Linked DNA regions of Homo sapiens: region 2 is linked to region 1. Evidence: fine-mapped expression QTL. A gene starts in region 1. The other region holds a variant in brackets. All regions are shown on one strand. Distances are between the middles of the regions. Region 1 holds the start of ANKRD34A (ankyrin repeat domain 34A). Region 2 overlaps ITGA10 (integrin subunit alpha 10).

Region 1 (5,375 bases):
CAACCCCAAAAATTGAGTGGGGGGAGGGAAGCAGCCTGCATTTGAGACCTAAAACGGGTGGAGGGAGAATTGGGGGGTTCTATTGCCCCTGCGATGTTCCCCATCACTCCTTGCTCTTTCCCCTCCCAGGCTGTGTGCCCAGATAGATACCTGAATGTCCGCAGAATCTCCGCCTGGCCAGGATTGGGGCCGTGGCCACGGGGCAGCCGAGGTGGCGGAGCCAGTTTCCTGGGGGCCCGCATGGCGTGGGGGGGGGGGCACCCGGATTCCCTTGGTGTCAGTATCTGCGCCCCGGCGCCGGATCCTGGTCCCTCCTCCCGGAGCGCCCCGGGCACAGCGCCGGCTCGGGAGGAGAGAAGCTTGGCGGGGGGGGGGGGGGGGGGGGGGGCGGAGCTCTGCTGTGCTATTTATAGCCTAGTCACTGCGGGTGGGGGCGTCAGGCACCAAACTGCTCCCCCACTCATGCACACATAAACCCTCAAAAACCTAGAGGCTCCAATCCTGACTTCCTTTTCTCAGCCGACCTCCCCTCAGCCCCAACAAACCTAAGTGTTCCTTAGGGGACTCCTCCGCGACCCAGACAGGGACCATCATCCAGATTCTTCGCTGAGATTCAGCAGATCCCCATTCTCCGCACTTGGTGTGTTTGTGCGCTCCTGTGCGCCAGACCTGACCTGCCATACACGGCACATGGCACACTGTGTAAGAAAGGTGTAGAAAGGCTTTTTGGATCCACAGCCGGTGTCCATACTGTGCAAAGAGAGGCAAGAGATGTGGCTTTCTTCCTGTAGTTTAATTGTGAAGGAGATCACGGTCCAGCCTGGAGTCAGACACAGATACACCCCCGCCCCATCTCTCAAAAACGGAACACCCATCGCAGAGAAACTTGGACCTCAGCTCCCTTATGTAGACCTCTTAGATAAGTATGAGGAAGGTGGATATGGGAGCACTTTTAGATAAGGCAAGGGACATTCCAGGTGCCTCCACCCCGTATTATTGTGGGCAGGGAGATAGGACAGGGGCAGGAAGAAGAGCGAACCTTGTAATACACTCTCTCACATTGCATCTCTTTAATCTCAGTCTTGCTTAGACGTCTTATTTTTTCCATCTTGCTTGACGATCTCTGTCTGAAACATTCCTTATATCTTCTCTCTTCCTATCTGTCTATTGGTCTCTCACACTGTCTCTGCCTCTCCTTGCCACCTGCCCTGTCTCCATGGTTACCATAGCTTCCATCCACATATTTTAGGAATGAGTTTGTGTCCAGCTGGAAGGCACCAAGGGAAGTGGGAGAAAAAGAAAAATCCTAAGGATTTAAAAAGTTCACTCAGGGTCCTGAGCTAATTCAGAGGCTGGAGGCCCCCCAGATGCAAGATACTGAAAATAATGTTCCCGGGGATGGGAGAGAGAGAGAAATATTTGCAGGAAGCTACCCATTTTTACTAGTTATTTCTTGGACACGTGTCAACTATGTGCCATGTGCTTTACATACACTATTTTCAATCCTCACAACTTTATAAGATAGGAACTATCATCTTCTTGTTACAGATGAGGAAACAGACTTAATAAGGTTAAGCAAGCTCTCCAAAGCTTCACAGCTATGTTTCTGTCCTATGGCAAAGACTGGGAGCTTGCCACTACACCTACAGCCTCCCAGTCTACAGGCCATTTTCTCTGACATCTGGGATGTTCTTCTTGACTAACTCCTAGATTTCATCTCCATTCTGAACCTTTCTCCCTTGTTTCTGCTTTCTGTGAAAATAGGACTCCTCCTTCCACTCTGCTGGCTTTCCCAAGGAGCTCGCAGGAAGTGGAAAGTAGTGGAAAATGCAGAAAAAGCTGGGCTCCTGCCCTGTCTCCCCAACCCTGGTACGCTGATCCCAAATCCTTCCTTTCTTGAACCCTCTGCCCACCTTCTCACAGACACGGCAGCAACCCACAGAAAAACATTTTTAGAAAAGAAGTATCCATTGGTGGTGCTGGAGAGAGGCAGTGTATGATTGAAAGGAAGGCTGGAGTAATGGAGAGACCAAGCTATGAAGCTAGAGTCACAAAAAGACTGATCCCTAAAGAGCAGCTTTTACAGAGGTTCATTTCTCCGTAGGCCCTCTCCTCCTTTGGCCTCTCTGTAGGGGCTCCCTCAACACGGTCCCTCGATGAGATATGAGTGTCACGTTCCCTCGGTGAACTCTCGCCGGCTAGTGGCTCCTTCATCTGGAGTGAGACCGGAAATAAGTGACCCCAGCTGATTCTGCAACGCCCATCTCTCTCTGCGACCCGCTTCGCAAGCTTCGGTTCCGGGCGTACTCGCTCCCTCCCTCCTTCTCTTCCTAGGCTTCAAGAGGGCGGACTTCCCTCCTCGGCTTCTCCTGCATTGGCCGAGAAAACTCACCAATAGGGAGCTCCGGGAGGCGGGCTTAGAACGCCACCGACTTGAGGAAGCCCAGTACATTTCAAGTTGGTCGCGGCTTGGGCTCCGCTTTGGGGAGGGGCAGCAGGTAAGGCTTGACCTGGTTCGGTCCGACACTTGCCAAACTTGTTCACCCCGGCCAGGCTGCGAAATAGACAACGCTTTCCGTCAGGTTGTTGGATCAGCCCCCTTCTGGCTCCCTACCGTTTCTCCCCTGGGCTTCCATTTCTGTATTGATTGTATACTAGAGAATGGCAGTTTTCTATCGCGCATGGGGAGAGACATTAAAGCAGAAAACGAGACAGCCTCTTGTATCTGTCTTTGCTATAGCATCAACTTCCCCCTAATCTATTAATATTATCCCAAGAGCCTGACAAACTCCTGTTATCTATGAAGACTAGCTGAAATGCTACCTGTAGTTTTCCTGGGCCGCCTTTCTTGCAAAATGAATTGTTCCCCCGTCTACGATAGCGTTTTGTATATACCTTTATTAGGACACTTAGTGCACTGTCTCTCTTTAACGTTTCTATGCCTTTTAGAATAGAAGGTTTTGTAGGACAGGTGCTAGTAGTTAATATATAGTGCCCAATAAACGTTAGTTAAATAGAATTGATTTCTGGTAACTAGCACTCTTTTTGGGGAGGCAGAATTTAAACTCCTAACATAACTAGGGAACAATAAAAGACAATACAGTATGTAATTAAGAGCCATTAAATTAGTGGTTCATAATATTAGTGTTTCATAATTGTTTCTACAATCTAGAGAAGGAAGAAAGCAAGGAGAACTGGAATGGTGAGGGGAGGCTTTATGGATCACAATTTCTCAAGTTTGGAAAGGCCCATAGAAATGATGTATTTATTCATTCAATAAATATTTATTGAGCACCTACTATATGCCAGACACAATGCTAAATCATGCTGATCATAGGGAATCCTCTACTAGAGCCATGCATCCTTCTTACAAACCCTATGTAGTAAATTTTTACCCAGCTTCTATGTAAACATCTTTAGTAAGGGAACTCTCTTATCTCTCTTGTAGATCATTCAATTTTTTGATACCTGTTCTTTAGTCAATATCCTACAAATATTCTAAATAAGAAATATATAGCTAAAGGAAATGCATTCCACACTTCCACTGTAAAAGAGGGAAATATGGCTGGGCACGGTGGCTCATGCCTGTAATCCCAGCACTTTGGGAGGCCGAGGCGGGCAGATCGCCTGAGGTCGGGAGTTGGAGACCAGCCTGACCAACGTGGAGAAACTCTGTCTCTACTAAAAATACAAAAATTAGCTGGGCGTGTTGGCGCATGCCTGTAATCCCAGCTACTGGGGAGGCTGAGGCAGGAGAATCATTAGAACCCAGGAGGCGGAGGTTGCAGTGAGCTCAGATCGCACCATTGCACTCCAGCCTGGGCAACAAGAGCAAAACTCCCTCTCAAAAAAAAAAAAAAAAAAAAAAAAAGGAAATCTGTCCTTTTACAGTGGAATTGGTAGCATTCTTAAAAGCAAGCCATTTCTGGCTGGGCGTGGTGGCTCATGCCTGTAATTCCAGCACTTTGGGAGGCTGAGGTAGGCAGATCACTTTAGCCCAGGAGTTCAAGACCAGTCTAGGCAACATGACAAAACCCTGTCTCTACAAAAACTACAAAAAAAATAGCCAAGCATGGTGTCTCAGGCCTGTAGTTCCAGCTGCTCAGGAGGCTGAGGTGGAGGGTTGCTTGAGCTGGAGAAGTCGAGGCTGCAGTGAGCCAAAATTGCCACTGCACTGCACTTCAGCCTAAGCGACAGAGCAAGAACCTGTCTCAAAAAAAAAAAAAAAAAAAAGAGGCCGGGCGTGATGGCTCATGCCTGTAATCCCAGCACTTTGTGAGGCCAAGGCGGGTGGATCACGAAGTCAGGAGTACAAGACCAGCCTGACCAACATGGAGAAACCCCATCTCTACTAAAACTACAAAAAAAATTAGCCAGGCATGGTGGCGCATGCCTGTAATCCCAGTTACTCGGGGGGCTGAGGCAGGAGAATCACTTGAACCCAGGAGGTGGAGGTTGCGGTGAGCTGAGATTGCGCCATTGCACTCCAGCCTGGACGACAAGAGTGAAACTGTCTCAAAAAAAAAATAATAAAATAAAAAGAACATAAATAAATAAAATGGGTATTTTTTAACCATTCATTTATTGTTAGATTGTTTCAGTTATTTCAGAATTTTTGCTACCATAAATAGCTCTTTGATGAATATCCTTTTACTTATATCTGTGACTGTATATCTGTTGATGTCTTTGGAATATATTTTTAAAGTGGGATTGCTGGATTAGGGATATAAACATTTCAAAGGCTGTTGATTTAACTGGACAAATTGCTCCCCTTGAAATATTATGTTTATAGTCTTTCCAGTGAGGTATGAGAGTGTCCATTTGAAAAAAAACTCATGACAGCCTGCTTATTATTTAAATCTTTGTCACTTTCATAGGTGAAGAGTGGTTTTATTGGCCATTCTCTCTCCTTTTTTTTTTTTTTGAGACAGTCTTGCTCTGTTGCCCAAGCTGGAGTGCAGTGGTGAGATCTCAGCTCACTGCAACCTCCACCTCCTGTGTTCAAGTGAGTCTCATGCCTCAGCCTCCTGAGTAGCTGGAATTAAAGGTGTGTACCACTGTGCCTGGCTAATTTTTTGTATTTTTAGTAGAGACAGGGTTTCTCTATGTTGCCCAGGCTGGTCATGAACTCCTGGCCTCAAGTGATCTGTCCACCTCGGCCTCCCAAAACCCTGGATTACAGGAGTGAGCCACCATGTCCAGACATGGCCATTCTCTTTGCCAGTTGCCTGTTCATGTCCTTTGCCCATTTTTTCTATTGAGATGATTTTTTAAAATTTGGATTTCCAAGATTTTAAGGGTGTTAATTTCTTGCTTTATTTATTACATGTATAGCAAATTCTACACATCAGCGTGCCCCAGGCCTCAGTGCCTGG
Region 2 (5,375 bases), 60 kb before region 1:
TGTTTTCCTCAAGTTCCCAGTCCTTGGACAGTTCACAAGACACTGCCCCCCTGCCACTCCCCAACTCTTCCAGATCCAGGGTGAATTCTCACTGCAATCCCATAGCGTGTCACTCTTCCAGCCTCACAGGCCTTTAGTGCTGCAGGAAGCTCCTCTCCATCATGGGACTCTCCATCAGTGACAACCACCAGTAGCCTGGCAGCCTCGGGTCGGCCCCCATGGGACTGACTGAACCCTTCTGTGCTGAGAAGAGAAAGGAGTGAGGTGAGATCAGATGTATGCAGACACACACACACACACACACATACACACACACACACACACACACACACACACACACACACACACAGGATTTAACATCAGCACTTCCCTGAGGTCAGGCATCTTGCCTTTTAGGCCATTTCCTGAGTATTTAACATGGAGATGGCATGGAGTGAGAGCTCAAATGTTTGAAGGTCATAGAACATACAGAGTAGCTTATCAGTCCAAATAAGTACAACGTTCATACACTCAGATTCATTCAACAAATATTGCACTTGGGAGGGGAAATATCGATGAAATATAGAACGGAAAAGAATGATCTGGGCAGGGACTCCTCCCAGAGATGAGTTGTTTTGTTTTGTTTCAATTTTACCACCGTGCCCCTAGAGATGAGTTTTGGATCATGTTTGGAACGTGGGCTAGGACATCAGTAGTGGAGAACCTGTGGGCCAGGATCATTGTTGGAGTGGAGGGATAGAAAGAGACTTCTGTCTGTGAAATATGGAGAGACACAGACATAGATACTTTGTAGAAATGCAGTGAGAGGGAGTACAATGACAGCCCACTTAGCCTTCCTCTTTGTACCATTAGTGTACATACAAAGAAAGTATGCAAGACATCTTGGGATATACACACTGCACTCCAAACCTGCCCTAACTCTTCTTCTTCTTCTTTTTTTTTTTTTAAGGGAAAGATTTTCATTTCATTTTATTTTATTTTATTTTAGATGGAGTTTTGCTCTCGTTGCCCAGGCTGGAGTGCAATGTTGTGATCTCGACTCACTGCAACCTCCACCTCCCGGGATTAAGTGATTCTCCTGCCTCAGCCTCCGAAGTAGCATGCCTCTGAACAGGCATGCGCCACCATGCCTGGCTAATTTTGTATTTTTAGTAGAGATGGGGTTTCTCCATGTTGGTCAGGCTGGTCTCGAACTCCTGACCTCAGGTGATCCGCCTGCCTTGCCTCCCAAAGTGCTGGGATTACAGGCGTGAGCCACCATGCCTGGCCCCGCCCTAACTCTTCTAAGCCTTCATTGCTCTAGCCTCCCACACCTGTCTTCCCAATGCCTCACCAGGCCACCATTATTGCTTGGGCAGTCTTTGTTTCTCGTCCCTCCCGCCGACTGAGGTTCTTTGCTGCTCTCACCACTTCTTCCTTCGTTCGGAAATCTCCCAGGGACCACTCATGTACAGGGCTCTCCCCATACTGTACCAGTCCCACCTGGGAATAAAGCGCATTCAAATGAAATGTATGTATGTGAGATGGGGGGAGAGGAGGAAGAAGAAAGTATATAAGAGAGGAGAGATGAACACCTGGATACTACTGAAGACAACACCTACATTTATCCCCTCTCTCTCTGTCTCTCCCCTTCCAAGCCCATCCATATTGCCTTTCTCTCTCTCTCTAAGAAATGAGGTCTCACTCTTTCACCCAGGCTGGAGTGCAGTTGTGTGATCAAAGCTCACTACAGCCTCAAACTCCTGGGCTCAACTGATCTCTTGCCTCAGCCTCCTGAGTAGCTGGGACTGTAGGCGCATGCCACCATGCCTGGCTATTTTTTTTTTCTTTCATATTTTTAGAGATGAGGTCTCACTGTATTGCCCAGGCTAGTCTTGAACTCCTGGCCTCAGGGGATCCTCCCACCTCCACCTCTTAAGTAGGTGCCACAAGCAACTGTGCCCAGCTCATATTGCCTTCTCTTACCTGTATCTGTTCTGGGTCAATAAACAGTTTCCCTACCAGTCTTCGTAGGAAGGTCTGAACTTCAGACCAGGGGTAGATGCTGTTGGAGCCATCCAAGACAATGACAACATCCATGTATGTTGGGCAGCCTAGAAGGAAGGAGAACACTGAGGTAGAGGACACTGAGCTGGGGGCAACAAGGGAAAGAGGTCACAGGAGGACACATTCAATTTAGACATTTATAAGGCACTTCTTACATGCAAAGAAGGTACTGTGCCAGGCTCTGTGTAAGTGTAGAAATTAATAAAATATTCCTTTAGTAATCTTTAGTAATTGTGTGTATGTAAGTATACATATAAATGTATATATATGTATATATGTATATATAGGTATATAAACACACACACCTACACATTTATATACATAGATATAATTTATATATACAATGTTCTAAAAAACAAGAAGGAATTAAATGCTATGTAGGAACATAGCAATGACTGTATGGTGGGGGAACAAAAGCAGAGTGGTTCTGATGGTGAGGAATGAAACATGGTAGCAACTATGAAGACTGAAAATGTTTAAGGAGAAGAGAATATTAGGAAAGGCATGTGGGTAGAGAACATTTTTTTTTTTTTGAGACAGAGTCTCGCTCTATTGCCCAGGCTGGAGTGCAGTGGCGCAATCTCGGCTCACTGCAAGCTCTGCCTCCTGGGTTCACGCCATTCTCCTGCCTC[A/G]GCCTCCCGAGTAGCTGGGACTACAGGCGCCCGCCACGACACCCGGCTAATTTTTTGTGTTTTTAGCAGAGACAGGGTTTTACTCTGTTAGCCAGGATGGTCTCGATCTCCTGACCTCGTGATCCACTGGCCTCGGCCTCCCAAAGTGCTGGGATTACAGGCGTGAGCCACCACGCCTGGCCCATTTTGTTTGTTTTTGAGACAGAGTCTCACTCTGTCGCCCAGGCTGGAGTGTAGTGGCATAATCATGGCTCACTGCAGCCTGGACCACCTGGGCTCAAGTGATCCTCCCACCTTGGCCTCCTGAGTAGCTGGGACCACAGGCATGCACCACCATACCCAGCTAATTTTTTTATTTTTTATTTTTGTAGAGATGGGGTCTCTCTATGTTGCCCAGGCTGGTCTCAAACCTCCAGACCTCAAGCAATCCTCCTGCGTTGGCCTCCCAAAATGTTGGGATTACAGGCATGAGTTACTGTGCCAGGCCAGATCATGGACTCCTGATAAGGAGTCTGAATTATTATTATTATTATTTTTGAGATGGAGTCTCGCTTACTCTGTCACCCACGCTAGAGTGCAGAGGCACAATCTTGGCTCACCGCAACCTCCACCTCCTGGGTTGAAGTGAGAGTCTCCTGTCTTAGCCTCCCGAGTAGATGAGATTACAGGCATGCACTAGCGCACCCAGCTAATTTTTGTATTTTTTTTTTTTAGTAGAGATGGAGTTTCACCATGTTGGCCAGGCTGGTCTTGAACTCCTGACCTCAAGTGATCTGCCCACCTTGGCCTCCCAAAGTGCTAGAATTACAGGTGTGGGCCACCACACCTGGCCAGGAGTCTGAATCTGTTAGGAAACATGGAGCTTTTGCAAGCACATTAGGTAGCAATGAGGATAGCCATGCAGGCCCTTTGCCAGGCATCATACCGCTTTGCCCCATCTTTTTCCCACCCAGTATCTCCTTCTGGGAACCAAGTACTCAGCCTTCCTCTGGCTCACGTTGGGCAGTGGGTGCCAGGCTTCCCTGAGGCTGGAATGAAGCATCCACACGGGCACATATCCCAGAACTGAAGACAGAGCTGCCACAAGCACGAGACCAGAGAGGGGCACAGGCCTGGGGATGGGGGAAATAGTTACTCCCAGGCTTGGGAGGGCACCCTCAGAACATGCTCCCAGTTGAAGGAGGCATGAAGACTACTCCCTGACATTACCTACCTTTTGCTTTCTAGGGTTTTTAACTCCTTGACCCCTCCACACAGACCATTTTCCCTTACCACACTTCTCTTTTTTCTTTTATGGACCTTCAGAGACACTGCCACCACCCTCTCCTTAGCTCACCATGAATCCCCCATCACCATCTGTCTCTAACAGAGACATCCCCAGGTGCATATTCACAGCAGGATGAGATGAATTTCCCAGTTGGTAGTCACCTGGTTGGAAGGAGGTGGAAGAGAATGAGATCATGGGGTCATAGATGGGGTGCTTGAATTCATGTGATTTTGGAGGAGAATGAGCAGGGATTGGTATCAGATTGGGGACAGGGAGTATGCGGATTTTAGGGGTGAAAAAGCTGAGGTATAGGGAGTTGAAGCTTCTAGAGTATCAAAGTCAGGGGTTAGGAGGAGAAGGGTCAGGCATCTTCTCACCTAAGTGGCCCTTGGCACATGGGGCATTGTGGGCCCCCCCTACAGGGCAGCGATAAACGTCCCCCCTCCGGTCGCCTGAAGGCCCATCCCAGGGGGCGCCCACCAGCATCCTGGGAAGAGGATGTGAATGTAAGTAAGCACAGGGCAAACATGACCCTTGACATAGGCCAAAGGGAAAGAGCATGGAGGTGGTAAGTTTAGAGCCCCAGCCACTTTCAAAAGACCAGATTAGTTTAGAGTCCCATCTATCTTGCCTCCCCTTTGTTAGCACTACTGCAGTCCCAATCCCCTGGCACTCCGGTTTCTTCCTCACCATCGCTGTCCACCCCCAACATGTTGTAAGACACTGTATCCAAATTCAGCTTCTGGTGGCCCTGGGAATAGGCGTGGGTGATGTTCATCCAGGTTAAAGGGGGAGCAGAGACCTGTGGGGTCAGGATCATAATGTTAGTATGAGGTAGTGAATGGCTAGAGGCACAGCCCGAGAGAAGCTGTGAGGAAGCGTCTTAATCTCAGTCTGCCTGCCTGCTTTTTCACTCATAAGCTTTTCTGGCCTCTCTCAGTGTCATGTACTCAGAGCTCCAGGCAAAGATGATTCCCTTCCTGTGTTTGTGTCCAGATGCCTAAACTGTGGCCCTCTGCCATGCTGATGTACAGCTGTATTTCCATTCCCACCCCTGAAATTTCATTCACAGACATGTCTGAAAAGGTCAAGTTACTTTTTTTTTTTTTTTTTTTTTTTTTTTTTTGAGACGGAGTCTCTCTGTCGCCCAGGCTGGAGTGCAGTGGCGTGATCTCGGCTTACTGCAGGCTCCGCCCCCCTGGGTTCACGCCATTCTCCTGCCTCAGCCTCCCGTGTAGCTGGCACTACAGGCGCCTGCCACCTCGCCCGGCTAATTTTTCTTATTTTTAGTAGAGACGGAGTTTCACCGTGTTAGCCAGGATGGTCTCGATCTCCTGACCTCATGATCCGCCCGCCTCGGCCTCCCAAAGTGCTGGGATTACAGGCGTGAGCCACCGCGCCTGGCTACTCTTTTCCACAACATTCCTTCC

Evidence for each region.
Region 2: its variant is fine-mapped to the expression of ANKRD34A in whole blood (TOPMed, PIP above 0.99). The same link has a PIP of 0.9 or more in blood mononuclear cells.

The regions. Positions count from the first base shown.
Region 1 is chr1:145,962,271-145,967,645 of GRCh38, forward strand. It overlaps ANKRD34A (ankyrin repeat domain 34A), which reads right to left and starts at 2,305. Exons shown (of 4, transcript NM_001039888.4): 1 at 1,914-2,305; 2 at 1,040-1,267; 3 at 151-698. POLR3GL (RNA polymerase III subunit GL) reads left to right here and starts at 2,420. Exons shown (of 8, transcript NM_032305.3): 1 at 2,420-2,498. RefSeq lists a silencer at 1,537-1,831 and an enhancer at 2,147-2,316.
Region 2 is chr1:145,902,719-145,908,093 of GRCh38, forward strand. ITGA10 (integrin subunit alpha 10) reads right to left here. Exons shown (of 30, transcript NM_003637.5): 2 at 4,636-4,747; 3 at 4,323-4,432; 4 at 4,015-4,106; 5 at 3,676-3,790; 6 at 1,966-2,093; 7 at 1,334-1,482; 8 at 93-243. Among named protein-coding and RNA genes, the nearest start is that of ITGA10, 4.6 kb to the right of the region's middle. The variant A/G (reference allele first, on the strand shown) is at 2,679.